Linked DNA regions of Homo sapiens: region 2 is linked to region 1. Evidence: fine-mapped expression QTL. A gene starts in region 1. The other region holds a variant in brackets. All regions are shown on one strand. Distances are from middle to middle.

Region 1 (8,340 bases):
GGGAAGGGGCCCAGGTATGTGCATTTTTGAAAGCACATACAAGCCATTACTTAGAGTCTCCCACCACTACACTTTGAAAGATGTACTGCTAGACTGTGATATATTTAAGATAAGGGGGCCGGGCACGGTGGCTCACGCCTGTAATCCCAGCACTTTGGGAGGCCGAGGCGGGCGGATCACAAGGCCAAGAGACCAAGACCATCCTGGCCAACATGGTGAAACCGCATCTCTACTAAAAATACAAAAAATTAGCTGAGCGTGGTGGCACACACCTGTAGTCCCAGCTACTTGAGAGGCTGAGGCAGGAGAATCGCTTGAACCCAGGAGGCGGAGGCTGCAGTGAGGAGAGATGGTGCCACCGCACTCCAGCCTGGTGACAGAGTGAGACTGTCTCAAAAAAAAAAAAAAAAAAAAAAAAAGATAAGGGAGGAAACGAAAGAACAAAGTAGTTGCAGAATGGGAGGCAGGAGAGAGGTTACAACACAGGATACACAGGGGAAAATAGAGGGACATGAGAATACAAAGACTAGCTAGATTGTAAATGCTTTGTGAAATAAAAGCTAACTGCCTAAACCCTTCTTCTAGAAGAGGTGACTGTAAAAATAACAGAAAATTGTCACTACTTTGTTCCTTAATAAAAAGGACTACTCTAATTCCTATTACCCAAATACAAATGGCAAGAATAACTCATAACCACACTAAACTCCCTAAACTACTTATAAAAGAAACCTGGTAATTGATAAAGCTCCCAACCCAAGATTTAATATTCACTTGGATTATAAACTAGTAACTATCATTTTAAGAAGTCAATATAAAAGAAAAATCTCTGATGAAACCGCAGACAATACACTCTTTATTTTCATAAAGTCATTGTCACTAGAAAAGTAAAAATTATTCCTATTGGTCAGGCTAAAAGAAACAAGAAAATAAGAGTAATTTTGCCAAAATGGTGAATCTGAAAATAAGTGTCTAAATATCCAGTCTAATATTAGCCTTCTCAAAGCTTTTTCATACCTATTGGTAAAAAGAAACGAACAGAGGAACACCTGAATCATTAGTTTAACACTGTATACCTGTACCTAGACACATGGGGAGGCACTCTATGAATGACTGTGGAATTTAACTGCAATACCAGGTAAGAGTTGTGGCTTGCCCAATGTACTGTTTTGTCTTAAAGATCAGCAGAAACTTTGTGACCGGTCACCTTTGCTGAAAAGGTTGGAGTTTCTTCACAAGCATTTTAAAGTCAGTTATGAATCACATGCACCACAAAAGAACTTAGTGCTAAAGAAAATAAAGTCTGTGAGTTAGGAAAGAGAAAAACTTAAAATCACTACAGAAACTGACATATGCAGTTATCTTAAATGCGGTTAACTAGGCTATAAGAAAACCAAAATGATGTAAAAATTCTATTCATATGACAAACATTAGACAAAAAAGGATACAATATTGCTTAACCAATGCACCAAGGTGTTATATAACACCTGGTGTCGATCCTATGCTCATACTAAAGTTAAATAAGTCAGAAAATTTGTGCTGTTTTACTTATGCTGTGAACAGAATTACACAGTTTAATGCCAATGTGCATTATTCTATATGGATTTGTCCAAGCTGGAATTTTATAAAACAGGCCAAACACATTGGCATTTTGAAAATTAAATCACAGACTTATAGTGATAGCTGCAAGCAAAGTTCAACTGTTTAACAATCACAATTTAATCAGCTCACAGGACTTATACACTGCATCTATCTAAGCAGTGTATGTATACGATAAATATGCACATTATGTATCAATAACAAAAACAGGATGGAAGACTTTTTATCTAAAAGCTTTGAATTCACATAAAATTAATCCCTATTAAGATATAAACAATTTATCAACATTTTAAAACATCTCATATCACTACAATCATAACCTTTCGGTTTGGAAATCTGAATCTTTCAGTGAAGGTATAGGCTCTGCTAATCGATCAACACCTATGAGAGGAGGAAGGAATATAAACGTTTCACTCTTTCTTTTGTGAGAATCTGTTCATCCTTCAGGGCTCAGCTCACATTATTCAACAAATATTTCTTAGTGCTTCTCAGATACCAGGTACTATTTAAGGTCCTAGTGCAATGTTGACCAAAAGGACTAAGCTGTTGCAAATGTTGAAATAGAAACAATTGCCACTGGCCAATATGGCAACTGGGTACTTGAAATGTGGTGGCTACTACCAAAAGAATCACTTAATTTTTAATTTGATTTAATTAATTCAAATCAAAATAGCCAAATGTGGCTAGTGGCTACCAGATTGGACAGGGCAGCCCAGTCCTAAGTATAGAGGTAAACAAGATAGACGAAAATGTTACCTTTGTGAAGTTTATAATCCAGTGTAATAGAAAGACATTAAACAAATAAACCAATACATACGTAATGTGAGGTGGTCATTGGAAGTGGTCCCTTTAGGAAGGGTGTTTAAGGAAGGCCTCTCTAAAGATATCTGGATTATGTACATGCCTGTCTATATACTCCTATGAACACTACACTAACATATAGCACAGAACTCTATACAAATGCTTGTCTTGTTCAGCTGTACTCTGGCACCTACCATAATGTGGTTCTTGACCAAGTGTGCAGAAGTAATCTGCAAAGCTCCCCAAACTGATCCGGTCATGCAGTGTTCAAAATACACCAGCAACTCAGAATTTGGAAAACGTGGGGAAAGAACACAGCAAAAACAAGCCGCTCTTTCCTCCCATCCAGTCTCAAGCAGCTTTTGAGCTTCACTTCAAAACACAGCAATGCGGAGCAAAGATTGCCTTCTCCTTTCTTTCTTCTCATCCCCAGCTTTTACTGTAAATGAAGTCGCTTAGTCTCTGCCGCACCACACTCTTCAGCTATTGCGATACTTTTAACAGGCTGCTTCACGCAACACCACACCTCTTTCGCCTACCATTAGATTTATAGTTCCCACAAAGTTTCTAAGACCTTAGAGGTTCTCTGCCGCTCCTACACATAAAACACCATACAGACACTCTATTAAGAGTTAATGACTTTAGAGAGGACAAGGATGCACAGAAGTATTCATCTAAAAATACGACGACAAACTTTGTCCTTTTCCTTTTACACTCGGAAGTAATGAGGCAAAGTGACAGGCTATGGGAGCGGGTAAAAAAGCAGCTCAGAGTTGCCAGAAGAAAAGGGAAGTGAAAAAGCCGGAAACTGGAGATGCCACAGCCCTCGACCTACAGCCTTCCAGACCTTCCCACCGTACGGCGGGAGAGTGGGGGTAACCTCAAGCCCACTTGAAACCAGTCAGTGCCAACTGGGCGGCCGCGCAGCCCCCTTCCGGCGCCCAGTTTGCGGTCCGACTCCGCCGCGCCTTTCCGCTGGAGCCCGGGCCTTGTGCCAGCCTGGCTGACTGTGCCACGAGTTACCTGCTTGTCTCGAGTGAAGAATAGCGCTCCGGCAAAACCTGGAGGCAGCGCTGGAAAAATCGCACGTGCCGATCCCGTAAGAAATCCAGCCGCTCTCCCTCACCGCTCCCTGCTAGCCTCTCATCCTCAGTGGCCGCCATGCTGCTCCGGAAGCGACGTCCGCCGCGACCCGGAATCAGTGCCCGCGGAGAGAAAGAACCCTCCTGTGCTGAACCACAGGGTGCCGGGTGAGGGGACCTGCGCCCGCCGCAGACTAAGCCAGTATTTGAAACCGCTATCATCTGGGTCCTGTGCAGCACTTCCTCTCTCCGATATCTCCCTAGCTAGCGCATGACCCTACCTTTTCTACTCAAAGCCCTCGAGGCTTGTAAACACCTCGCAGGCCTTGTGAAAATCAAGTCCACAAATCCCTCCGTCAGAATTTTTATCTTGGGAAGCGCAAGGTCAAAAGCATCAAGTACGCTTTGAGACAATTCTGGCTCTGTAGAACCTGAGGATGGTATATCTGAAAACGAGGATGGATCAGTATAAACTTGCTAACAGATTCATTTTTGGAGGGCCAGTTTTAAGCCGAACGGTTAGGGAAACAGAAAAACAAACCAGTGGAGATAAATGTTTATTGACACTACAAAAGCTCAGAGACTTTCCTAATCTTAATCCTTTCTGGATACCAGGAATCACTTAAAAATCTGTGTATAATGCCCCCAAACATATACAACATGCATATTCATACCTATATATGACTGCTTGCGTCATTCTTTTACAAATCTTACAGATTTTACTTTGCTTGAGTCGACGTGTTATCAAGAATCAATGGTGCATCAATCTGCAACAGCAAAATAAGCTCAATATCTTCTCCAATTACCTGCATTCTAAAAAATTTAAACATGCTTCTAGTTCTTTTTTCCAAAAATAGGGATTTAAGTTGTTTAGCCGGTATACTATGCCCTTTAAACTTTCATGAGGCATTCCTGAGTAGCGGGTGGGGGGATCCACCCAATAATATAACTAAACTAGGTTCCCTGTGATCAACTTAGCTAATAAAATTTTGGGTTTAATTTTGTTAGCTTTCTTAGAAAATGTAATTCTTATACTCTATGGGCTGGGGTAATCTTACACTTATTCAACAATCCAAAGTGCTCTGAATAATTTTTGGTACTATTAACTACTTATTCACAGGTATTCCTGCATGTCTTTACAAAATGCCGCATTTAACAGCCACAGACGGATTCTAGGCTGTCCTCGGTACTTCCCTACAAATACGGAGCTCACAGTCCTTGCCCTTCAGGTGTGCCCAGTCTGGAGTTTCCACTGTTATTAAAATTAAGATCTCTCACTTAGCACACATACCCCCAAATGCCTGAAGATTTTTAAAGTGGAGTCTTATACACATTTAACTTACTGGAATCAGCTATGGACACTCTATACATTCTCAGAAAATTAATTCTAATAAACATGGCCCTTAAGTTAGGGAAGCCAAATGTTTCATCTGATTCTCAGCTCAAGGACTAGCAATCTGATCCAAATCTAGAGGAAAAATTTGCAATGTGGGACTCATTCAGAGATAATACAGAATGCCTCCTAGGTCGGTAAAAGGCTTTCCATGAGTGATTTTATCCCTACAAGATTTTTGGCATGTGCATAACAGAATGGGAATGATAGAACATCTATATAATTGAGTGTTATTTAGCCATTACATGATAATGTTTGAATTAGGTAGAAATGTACGAAAATGTGTAATGCAATTATAGCATAGTAATTAATATGTACTGTATGACTGTAACAATTTAAAAATATGTAGGTATGTTTTTTGAAAAAGTTACCCTGGAATTATGGGTACTTTATAACATTTCTTCTTTAGTGTTTTTTCTATGTTTCTTATTAATGTAGTTTTTTTGTTTCCAGGCTTACTTCATTTTATTTTTCTTGTACAACCCGATGTTGTAGCCACCGCTGGAGCCTGGGTCCTCTGCACGGAGACTCTGGTGTGGGTCTTGAGGAGGTGGTCAGTGAATTCCTGATAGGGAGACTTGGTGAATACAGTCTCCTTCCAGAGGTCAGGGTTCAGCCTGCTGTAGACCTTAGAGATGGCATAAAAAATGACCATGACGAAGTTGCCCAGGATGGCAGTGCAGCCCCTGGCTGAGGTGTAGCAGTCATTGATAGCTGCCATCAGCAGCAGCTTCTTGGCCATGGGGGCCGAGACGATGCCAGTGCTCCTGGGCGCAGGGATGACCCGCGCCAGCACAGAGCCGTGGCAGCCTGTCACCTTGCAAGGGATGGTGTGGGGCTTGCCGATCTTGTTCCCCCAGTAGCCTCTGCGCATGGGCACAACGGAGAGCTTGGCCAGGATGATGGCCCCGCAGATGGCAGTGGCCACCTCCTTGGAGCACTTAACACCCAGATCAGTGTGGCCACTGTCCCTGATGGCAACAAACGCCTTGAACCTGGTGTTCTGGCCGGTGCAGGTCTGCTTCTGCACTGGCACGTCTTCAAAACCTCCTTCTTGAGAGAGGCCCCAGGAAAAAGTCAATGATCACAGACTCCTTGATGGGCAGAGAGAAGAGATAGATCTACTCCAGGGACTTAATCTTCATGTCCTTGACCAGGCAGCCCAGCTTGGTGACAACCATCTACTCCTTGTCCTTGGTCTTGCCTCCACGAGCTCTGCAGCTGGCCCCGGCCCCGTCCATGGCCGCGACACGAGTTCCCCATCCCAGGGCCGGCTGAGACCCCAGTTCCCCATCCCAGAGCCCCCCGGGCCTCCGGGCCTCCCAGGTCCCCCGCTGCACCGGCATCATCCGCGATTTGGTGTTTTCTCAGAGAAAAAGCTAATGTACTTTTTAAACCAGTATAAGAAATATTTATTTGACATCTTGTTTATGAACCTGTAACTTCTATGAAGTCTGTAACTGAAGATATTTGTTTATCTTACATCTTTTATATAAAGGATCTATATAATAAATTCATCATTTATTTCAGATTCAGCTAGAAAAACTGATTTCTTCAGAGGAACTTCCATACTTTTCTTTATTTAAAAAAAAAATAAAAAAACAAAGCCATAAGAATCACATCATCCAGAATGCTTACCTTGGATACAGGAATTTGAAAGCTGCATTTCGGTGCAACAAAAAGCAACACGTAAAAAAGCAATATGTAAGAAACATTTTCTGTATCTTGTAGCTTCTCAGTTCTGCTTTTAATTTCCTCATCTTGCTCTGTGTTTTATTTATGTATTTATTTTTTGAGATGGAGTCTCACTCTGTTGCCCAGGCTGGAGTACAGTGGCACAATCTCAGCTCACTGCAACCTCCGCCTCCCGGGTTCAAGCGATTCTCCTGCCTCAGCCTCCCAAGTAGCTGGGAGTACAGGCGTGAACTACCACACCAGGCTAATTTTTGTATTTTTAGTAGAGATGGGGTTTTACCATGTTGGCCAGGCTGGTCTTGAATTCCTGACCTCAAGTGATACGCCCACCTTGGCCTCCCAAAGTGCTGGGATTACAAGCCTGAGCCACTGCACCCAGCCTCTATATTTTATCTCTGAACTACTTCAAATCATTACAAAAAAGTTTTGGATAACAAAATCAGCACTCCTGTTTAAGGATCTTTTATGTCAATTTTCTCATTCTGCACCAATAACTGTACAAATCAGAATTCAGTTTCTAAAATTTGGAAGCCATCTATTTTGAATATTAACTGTAAAATAAGAAAAGATTTTCACCGCTACTCATAGTACCTTTCTAACTGAGTCATTTAACCTAAATGCATCCCATTAACAATGAAAGATAAAGATAAACAATGAAAGATTAAGATAAAAAAAGATTTATAAGAGATAAATTTCCTGTGTTTTTATGTATATAGTATCTTTCCTATGAGAACAAATTAAATAACGTTAGAAAGGAATATTTTATAATATGAAAAGTTGAACTGTATTCAATTACATTGTGTTTTCATGTCTAAAAGTTTAGAAATTTAAGAACTAACTCTTGCCCAAATATGTTAATCTAACAGCTTTAAAAGATCTTATTCATTCATTCCTTCATTCATTCATTTTAGAGACAGGGTCTCTCTCTCACCCAGGCTGGAGTAGAGTGGTGCCATCGTAGCTCACTGCAACCTGGAACTCCTGGGTTCAAGTGATCCTCCCACCTTATCCTCCCAAGTAGCTGGGACTACAGGTGTGTGCCACCATACCCAGTTAATTAAACTTTTTTTTTTTTTTTCTGTAGAGACAGGGTCTCCCTGTGTTGCCCAGGCTAGTGTCAAACTCCAGGCCTCAATTCTCCTACCTTGACCTCTGAAAGTGCTGGGATTACAAGCATGAGCCACCATGCCCCACCTAAAACATTTTAAGTGCCATCAAGAGAAATCACAGTATTTTAAAGCTGGCTTATTTCAGATGATGTTTCAGAACAAAGAATTTTCCTATTTTGAGGCAAACAGAAGCAGAAAAGAAAACTGCATTAGCCAGGAAGATGTGAAAGACACAAAGATTTTATAAATCTGTGAAATCCAGAAAGGCTGAAGGAAAATTTGGAATTGCTGAAGGAAACCAAAAAGATTATATCAATAATACAATTAATAGGGTATATGAGAGACATATTTTTAAAATAAATATTCTCTATATAAAACAAAGCATGCTTCAAACAAATACAAAATATTTATTACACAAAAATGTCATAACTGACAAACTGCCAATTTGTTAAACATAGAAAAAGTACTAACATTTCGTAACTCTAAACAAAAACCACTTTACCTTTTTGTTACTCAAGCTAACTTAACTCCAAGTTATAAAAGTTACAAAATTTTGGTTTAAAAAATGTCATTGTATGATTGTTCCAATTTACTTTGCTATGCTATAACAAAAACAAAATCTCTTTGAAATGTTTTCAGTATTTAAATTGAATAATGTTTCTAA
Region 2 (8,340 bases), 49 kb before region 1:
ATTCCAGAGCACCTCCTCATTAACTGTCTCTCAAAAATGATCAGGTCCAACAGTTTTCAAATTATATACCACTGTCAGCAAGATTTCTATATGAATTTAGATTAAATATAAATAACTAAAGATCTAATAACACATATATATTATAGATCAAATCTAAAAACACTGAAATGATAAACAGGTTAAATTAGGCCATATGATCTGATTAATCTCATTTGTACACAGATGCTCAAAATAAAGCTCCTCCTCCTACCTTCTAAAAAAAAAATGCCACAAAATTAGGGGGCGGGAAGGAGACAAGTATAGAGTAGGTAACAGAGCTTTTTGAGATTTCGGACTTCGTATTTTCCCTCATTACATCGCTCCTGTTAAGGAATAAAGTGTATATGTGAAATATTGCTTATAATTTATTTAATCGATAAATGCTTTTCTTGTAAATAACTATTTAGAAAAGTTAGAAATAGTTTCTCCACAATTCACACTGGGCTGCTATTTTCTGGTCAATTCAGTTGCTGTGGAATGTGAACATTTACTAGTCCATAAAGTTTCACAAGAAAGTCTCCCACAAGTGTATCAATTAGAAGCATACTAAAATTTATAATCTTATGGTATTAAATTATCAGGAGTTAGAAAATATTTAGCCTTATGAAATACTTTTAGATTGGAATTTTTCTCTAACATTTATGAATAAAATCACTGTTACTACCTTTATTGCCTTCTAACCTTTCTTGGTGATACAGAAAAAACAATTTGGGCTTTTTATATAGTCCTAAAGCCATTATATATATGCTACTTTAACTTCCAATGTCTAAGAGATGACTTAGTTTGAGATATGGATGTCTTAATCTGCCAGGATTTAAATAGTAGCAACTGGAATAACCCATAGACGGATAACATCTGTTATTAAGCTTACTTTTTCCCCCACCATCAGAAGATTTATTTTATTTCTAATTAAAAAACATACAGTTGGCAAACTCAGGTTTAAAACTAAGCATGCCAATAATAAATCAATCATTTCTCCAAGTACACAGTGTTTCCCTTGGGAAGGACTGTTATTTCACAACATTTTTTTCCCTCTGATTTAGAAAAAAAGATAACATTTAAAGTATTACAATGCCTAAACAGTGATACCAGTAATCCAGTTTTTATACTGATACTTGTATTTCAACATTTATTATCACCAAGACTAACTTAAAGCCAACTCCTTTAGTGAAGAGATTTCTTTCCCCATTTCAGTACTAGACGCAATAGTTCTGAATGTCACTGAGCAAGTAACGGATATGAGTTATTGATAAATTAATTACTAATGAAGAGTTTTTATACTACCTCCTTTATAATTAGCTAGTTCATAGACTTAAAACAAAACAATGAACAAAAACAAAACCCTATTTCTTACCCTCTAAATGGTCGCATTTCCCTTTCACTTACCTGAAAATATGAGAATAAAAATGACCATGTATTGAGTTACACCACTGAATCTGTTTGAATGGTTCTGTTTTTGTATTTTTTACTTATTTAATTTGAAAAAAATTAGAAAAGTATTAGTTTGAAATTAGAGCAGCTAACACACTGGGGGCAATAAATTAAAAACTTCAAATGGCTAAAAATGAAAACACAAAGTATCTTTCCTTCTAGATAAAAAAGATTGTTTTCTTCCTAGAAAGCAAAAAAAAAAAAAAAAAAAAAAAGGCAACTAATGATTTGAGAATAAAATCAAACATAACTGGTATTCACCACAGCAATGTCTAGATAAATGACCCACATAGCACAAAACTTTCTCATTCACAATCACATACAGTTAAGTTGCTTTTCCCTCAGTTACATAATAGTTGTCTTCAAACAATCTCCTTTTAGAAAACTATCACATTAGTTAAACCTATTTATTCTTACTATGAAGTTATTAACTTCATTTATATAGGCCACACAGGTTTAATTGGCACACTTTACTTAAGAATAAGACAAAATAAGTCACTCTTCTTTAAAAAAAATTATGGTCATCTGTTTTCAAAGAATAATCCCAGATACTTAATTAATTAAAGCAAATTTTCTACGATCAGCAGTGAGCTTTTTAAATGATCACTAAGTGTTCACCTGAAGATTATCAATGCTATATGAAGTGTAAACTTGAAAATTTGTGTCCATTTTATAATAAGATACAATTTGCACTGAAGAGTTTTTAAAAAGATAACCTACACACATACAGTTAATTTGCCTCAAACAACTTCTTAGAAATACAGTATAAACATTTAAGAACCACGACAAAGTTGTGGTTCAAACTTCAACAAAGATTTTCTTGAAACCCAGTATAAAGATTACTGGCTCAAGACCATATCCCAAAGTGAAATCAGCAGGAGATTTGATTGTAAGACTCTACCTTTTAAAAAAAGAGCACACTTGGTTATACATGGCTTTTAAACTTGAGCTACAGTTATGCTACAAATCCCCCCACCCTCCCAATCTAAAATCAGTCATGTGGAGATATGTACATTCTCTGAGCATTGTTTAGAGTCCTTGGTTTTCCAGCTTTGATGGAGATCTAGAAGGCGTTCAGAAGTCCGTGTGCTTACATTCAGAGCAGGATGAACTTTACAAATTCCACTTTCCTCCATTAGTGACAGGCCACAGATCCCAAAGTATGCATGCAAAGCATCTGAAAAGAAGGCATTTAAAACATCATAATAGGCATTCTTACTTGTACATTCTACAGAATATTTTAGCCACATATTTACCAGCCCATCACTCCATTAAAAGTAAGTTTAGAGAAATGCTAATATAGTTTTAAAAATATTTGCTTTCTCAAAGCCTCAAACACCAATTAAAAAAAAAACTCAGATGATCAAAATAAAATATTTTATTCATGAAAATATCATTAACAAAGGAAAACAGTTTCCAGCTGAAGAGCTGATACTGTCCATAACCTCTGTGATTAAAAGACAGGAGTAGCAGCAGTCATATGTAAGACTTCTCACTTTGGGGAGTTTCCCCTCTTGCTTACTAGAGAACATGAAAACGAGTAGCTTCAATGCTATATCATTAAGTTTTTTTTTCTTTAAAACGAAAACAAAACTCTGAATCTAAGTTGCAATATCCCTCGCTCCACGTTTTACCTCTGAAAGTTCCTAAACCATATGCAGTACTATCCTAACATTGTGTTAAATAAAAGGAGCTTATGCAAAAATAATCCATTCTGGAATGCTGTGCCATATTTAATCCTCCTATTTAGGGTAATGTCAGTCATTGTAAAAATATCTGATCTGACAATAAAAACAAACTCACATTCTATTTGGTTGAAATAATATGAGTGCTCATACCATGACAATTCTGCACTGGCTCACTAGTTTCCCATCTTTCAGGGGGCAGCGATCCTCTTCTATTAAAGTGGCCAATGAAATCACATGGCCATTCCTGCCTAGGAGTCTTATGTAGACTTCTGAAGAGCTCAGAGCTTTGCAGTTA[T/C]AGGAACATTAAAAAGACAGTTTTGTACCAGTCAAAATTTTTTTCTATTTTTGAATTGGCCGACATTTATGGCCTTAAGAGCTATTAAAGTTCAAAACAGGCTGGGTGTGGTGGCTCACACCTGTAATCCCAGCACTTTGGGAGGCCGAGAAGGGCATATTCCTTGAGCCACAGGAGTTCGATACCAGCCTGGGCAATACGGTGAAGCTCCATCTCTACAAAAAATACAAAAATTACCAGGTATGGTGGCGTGCGCCTGTAGTTCCGGCTACTCGGGAGGCTGAGGTGGGAGGCTCACCTGAGCCTAGGGAGGTTGAGGCTGCAGTGAGGCATGATTATATCACTGCACTCTAGCCTGGGCAAAATAATGAAACCCTGTCTCAAAACAACAACAACAAAAAGTTCAACACATCTTACCACATCAAACTTTGTCAAAAGAGTTAAAGAAAAAGCTTTACTTACAACAGTATCACTTATTTTTCAAAACAGAAATGACAAATAGCTGTGCTTACTCAATGCCATTGTGAAAATGTTATTTAACTAATGGAGGCCCATGTTGATCACCTTTTAGGCCTTTTCAGAAAATACTTAGGTTTCTTCTGGCTCACTTTCCTTTGACTTTCAGACTATAAAAAATAAACTTGATTTCACCTGTCATATTACATCCATATAGTTATTCTAAAACTACAAAGGGTACAAAGCAACATTAAGCTTTGTTTTCTAGAAACTAGGAAACTTTTCTAGGAAAAAGTACAACAGAAAATATATATCTATAATAACATAAAATAGAACTGTGTAAAACTAAAATCTCTCTGGGTAAAGTAACAAATAAAACTTATTTGTTTCTCAAAAAGATTTTTGTAACAGCCAATGAGATCAGAACTCAATTGTTTGAAGCCTCAAATTGTGTTTTTAAAAAAACTCCTTATCTGTAAGTGGCAACGTACAAGCACTTTAGATGTGGAACTATATGTTTACTCCATAATAAAGCACTTTAGATGTTGAAATATATATTTACTCCACAATAAAAGGTTATTCTTTTGAAGTTTCTTTCATAAATGTATATAAAATCCCTTTGTATCAAATTTGCCACTAAATTCACTAGAATGAAGAATAAGCTTAATTTTAAAGAATCTTGTTAAAATGATTAAAGATTCTGGGACCAGATCTTTACACATAAATTCAATTTAGCAAAGCCCTTCTATGCTTTCTATTGCATACTCTGAAAACATTGTAATGTATCTGTAAAAAGTAAGTAGTACATCCAAATATTTACACAAATGTTAAAGTTAGCAACTGAACTCTCCGGAAAAAGCCTCAAGAACTTTCTTTTAAAAAAGCTATTGGAAACACTGAATGTATTTCAAGTATGTTTATACAAGAAATGTTTCCTAAGAGACTGTCATTTCCCTACTCCCATTATTTGTTAAAACAGTACCCTGCACTGGTTTAAAAAATGGAATGAAGACCAAAATAATTCTCAGTTTTGAGGCACTAGAGATATCAAAAATTTCAAGATATTATTTTGCTTGAGAAATTAACTTCTGAAGACACACTTTGGCTTACGACTTTGAAAGCAATGTACACTTTCTCTAAGAAGACATGTTTTACTACTGATTGATTGATTGAGACAGAGTCTCGCTCTGTCGCCCAGGCTGGAGTGCAATGGTGAGATCTTGGCTCACTGCAACCTCCACCTCCTGGGTTCAAGCAATTCTCCTGCCTCAGCCTCCTGAGTAGCTGGGACTACAGGTGTGCACCACCATGCCTGGCTATTTTTGTATTTTTGGTAGAGACGGGGTCTCGCCATATTGACCAGGCTGGTCTTCAACTCCTGACTTCAAGTGATTCACCAGCATCAGCCTCCCAAAGCTGGGATTACAGGCGTGAGCCACTGCACCCGGCCATTTATTTTATTTTATTTTTTGAGATGTACTCTTGCTCTGTTGCCCAGGCTGGAGTGCAGTGGTGTGACCTTGGCTCACTGCAACCTCTGCCTCCCAGGTTCAGGCAATTCTTCTGCCCCAGCCTCCCAAGTAGTTGGGATTACAGGCACCCACCACCACGCCTGGCTAATTATTGTATTTTTAGTAGAGGCAATGTTTCACCATGTGGCCAGGCTAGTCTCAAACTCCTTGCCTCAAGTGATCCGCCCACCTCAGCCTCCCAAACTGTTGGGATTACAGGCGTGAGCCAAAACTCCTGGCCTAGGAAGCATGTTTTATATGAAAATATAGGCAAGTAGGGGTGTAAGGAAATATTCCTGCTCATTTCAAATACAAAAATTGATTTCATGAGCTCCTTATTTATATTCTGATTCAATCACACATTCCAACCACAGCAGTTCTGTGATGGAAGATGAGTTGATGAGGCACTTTCCAGGCTGATAATAAAAACCACGACTCTATTGCAATACTGGCAAAAACAATCATTCCTTGTGTCTAGTTTCATATTTGTAACTAATTCTTTAACTACTTGCTTATCAAAAGTGTCAGTGTTTGAAATTATTTCAAAACACACTTAAATGGATTTTTATAGGGAAGCTGTATATAGACTCATTTTGCTGGAGGTGAAAACATATGTCGGGTGAGGTGTAGGCTGCAGAATGATGCTAGAGGTGGGAGAGGAGCCAAATTTTGGAAGGGCCTTGAGTGCCATGCCATTTATATTGTCTGAATCTGTTGAAATTTGGAGAACAAGAGTATGGGAAGTGAGAAACACATATATTCAGGATTTGAAATATTTTATTTAATGACTTTTTTTTTTGAGACAAAGAGTCTCGCTCTGTCACACAGGCTGGAGGGCAGTGGTGCAATCTCGGCTCACTGGAACCTCTGCTTCCTGGGTTTAAGTGACTCTCCTGCCTCAGACTCCCGCATAGCTGGGACTACAGGCACGCATCACCACACCTGGCTGATTTTTGTATTTTTAGTAGAGTCGGGGTTTCAACACGTTGGCCAGGCTGGTCTTGAACTCCTGACCTCAAGTGATCCACCTGCCTTGACCTCCCAAAGTGTTGGGGTTACAGGCATGAGCCACTGTGCCCGGCCTATTTAATGACTTCTGAAAAGAGTAAGAACTGATTCCCTTCAGGATTGGGAGTAATTTATTATACTTAGTTCAAGTCATGACTAATAATCCTAACGGCTTTGGATGGCCTAAATAATTCTCTTCTTTGGAAAGGACCCATTCAGACCATCTACATTATTGCTGCAAATGAAATAAAACATTACTAAGTAAAATATTTGGGAAAAAATGCACACTATTCCCATGCATCTTGATAATAAACTCTTTCATTTATACTCTCTAATACCCTAAATTTATCCTAAGCTTACACAATATACCTTTTAAAAAATATTATTTAATGTAACTTTGCAACTGGATATATTTTCTATCATATGCCTTTTCTGATAAAGATGCTTGAAGATCTATTCAGGAAATAAAGGTTGTTCTGATTCACAAAGAAAATAATTACCTGGATGACTGTCTGGCCACTTGGCAAATCCCCCTACAAGGCGATCTTGAGTTGATAAGATGTAATTTCTATTTTTCTCAAAGTTAGTGTATTGGAAAATTTTTAGAAGCTGAAATGACATGACAAATAAAAATTTACTGACATAAAACTCATATCAACCTTTGGCTCAAATTTCAGATACGTGTCATTTAGATATGCTTTTCTTTAGCTAAGGTGCTCAGACCAAGTCTCTGGGGCCTTGAGCACTTTTGAAATGAGTAAATCACATTAACTTTTTAATTTTCTTATCAAATCTACTCTCCTTTTCTCGACTCTCTATTTCCTTCTTCTGAACCAGGCCAACTGAACCCTTTAAATCACATTAAGCTAAATTCAAAAGACAACTCGAATCCACTCAACATAATCAGTCATTTTAAAAAGTACAATTTTATCTACCCATATTTTAACTCTTATGATAAGCTCTTGAGCTATTAGTTATAAACTAGTAGTAACTGGAATTAAAAATATTTTTTAAAAAAAGAGCAAACAAAAATTACTAACCAGATGCTACAGACAGTTTTGAAAATAGTAAAAAAGTATAGCTCTTTAATTAGGAAAGAAAAAGGTAAGACAAAAATGATTGCAACATAAAAAACTATATAGTTTTTAATGATTTAGGACATGTACTTGGCTTTTCTCTCAAGACCCCATAAAAGTAAAATACAAATAAATAAATAATACTGTGAAGTTCAAGATGAGGTGCACAGTAGGTAAGAGGGTTCAAGACATTTCTGATGATACAAAGCAATTTAATATATGTTAATGAACCAGAGAGAGCCACAGCTTTTAGTGACTAATGAAGAAGCATTATTTCTCAAAAAGAAAAGCTAAACTCATAAGAAAGTTATGGTACAAACAGGAAACAAATTTATTCATTTACATTGATTTAATTAATAAAATATAAGGAAAAAGACTTTTTTGAATCTTGATGTTAGGAATATTTTCCATCAGTGGCACACTGGTCATTACATAAAAATGAAAAAATTATAATAGTAACACTGCACTTGGCTTAGCAATAAACAATATTTTCACTATCCCATAATAAGTGTTGATTACTGGTTTTTAAATTTTAGAATCAACCTATAGGCAAAGGCTGAAAGATGTGATTATTAATATTGAACAAATATATGAATGTGTCCTAACTTAACATTATAAAAATAAAGGTAACCTTATATAGCATTGGAAGGTAGAAGATGAGGAAAATATTCAGAACTAACTATAACGGGTAACAATTTGTTGGAAAAGTGAGAGGCTAAATCTTAATTTCTCATAGTTGGGAATCATCAATAATGTCTAAAGGTGATAAGAAGTCAGTCTGTGATTTAAAGTTATGGTAATGTCCACAAGAATTAAAACATTTTTAAAAAGTTTAA

The links.
Region 2: its variant is fine-mapped to the expression of PGGT1B in whole blood (TOPMed, PIP above 0.99).

What each region holds. Positions count from the first base shown.
Region 1 is chr5:115,259,292-115,267,631 of GRCh38, forward strand. PGGT1B (protein geranylgeranyltransferase type I subunit beta) reads right to left here and starts at 3,586. Exons shown (of 9, transcript NM_005023.4): 1 at 3,421-3,586. The coding sequence starts at 3,560. It overlaps CCDC112 (coiled-coil domain containing 112), which reads right to left. Exons shown (of 10, transcript NM_001040440.3): 10 at 7,899-8,340. It also overlaps the pseudogene RPS2P26. RefSeq lists enhancers at 3,445-3,624, 3,655-3,704.
Region 2 is chr5:115,209,937-115,218,276 of GRCh38, forward strand. PGGT1B (protein geranylgeranyltransferase type I subunit beta) reads right to left here. Exons shown (of 9, transcript NM_005023.4): 8 at 6,929-7,037; 9 at 1-2,647. The coding sequence ends at 2,466. Among named protein-coding and RNA genes, the nearest start is that of TRIM36, 44 kb to the left of the region's middle. The variant T/C (reference allele first, on the strand shown) is at 3,454.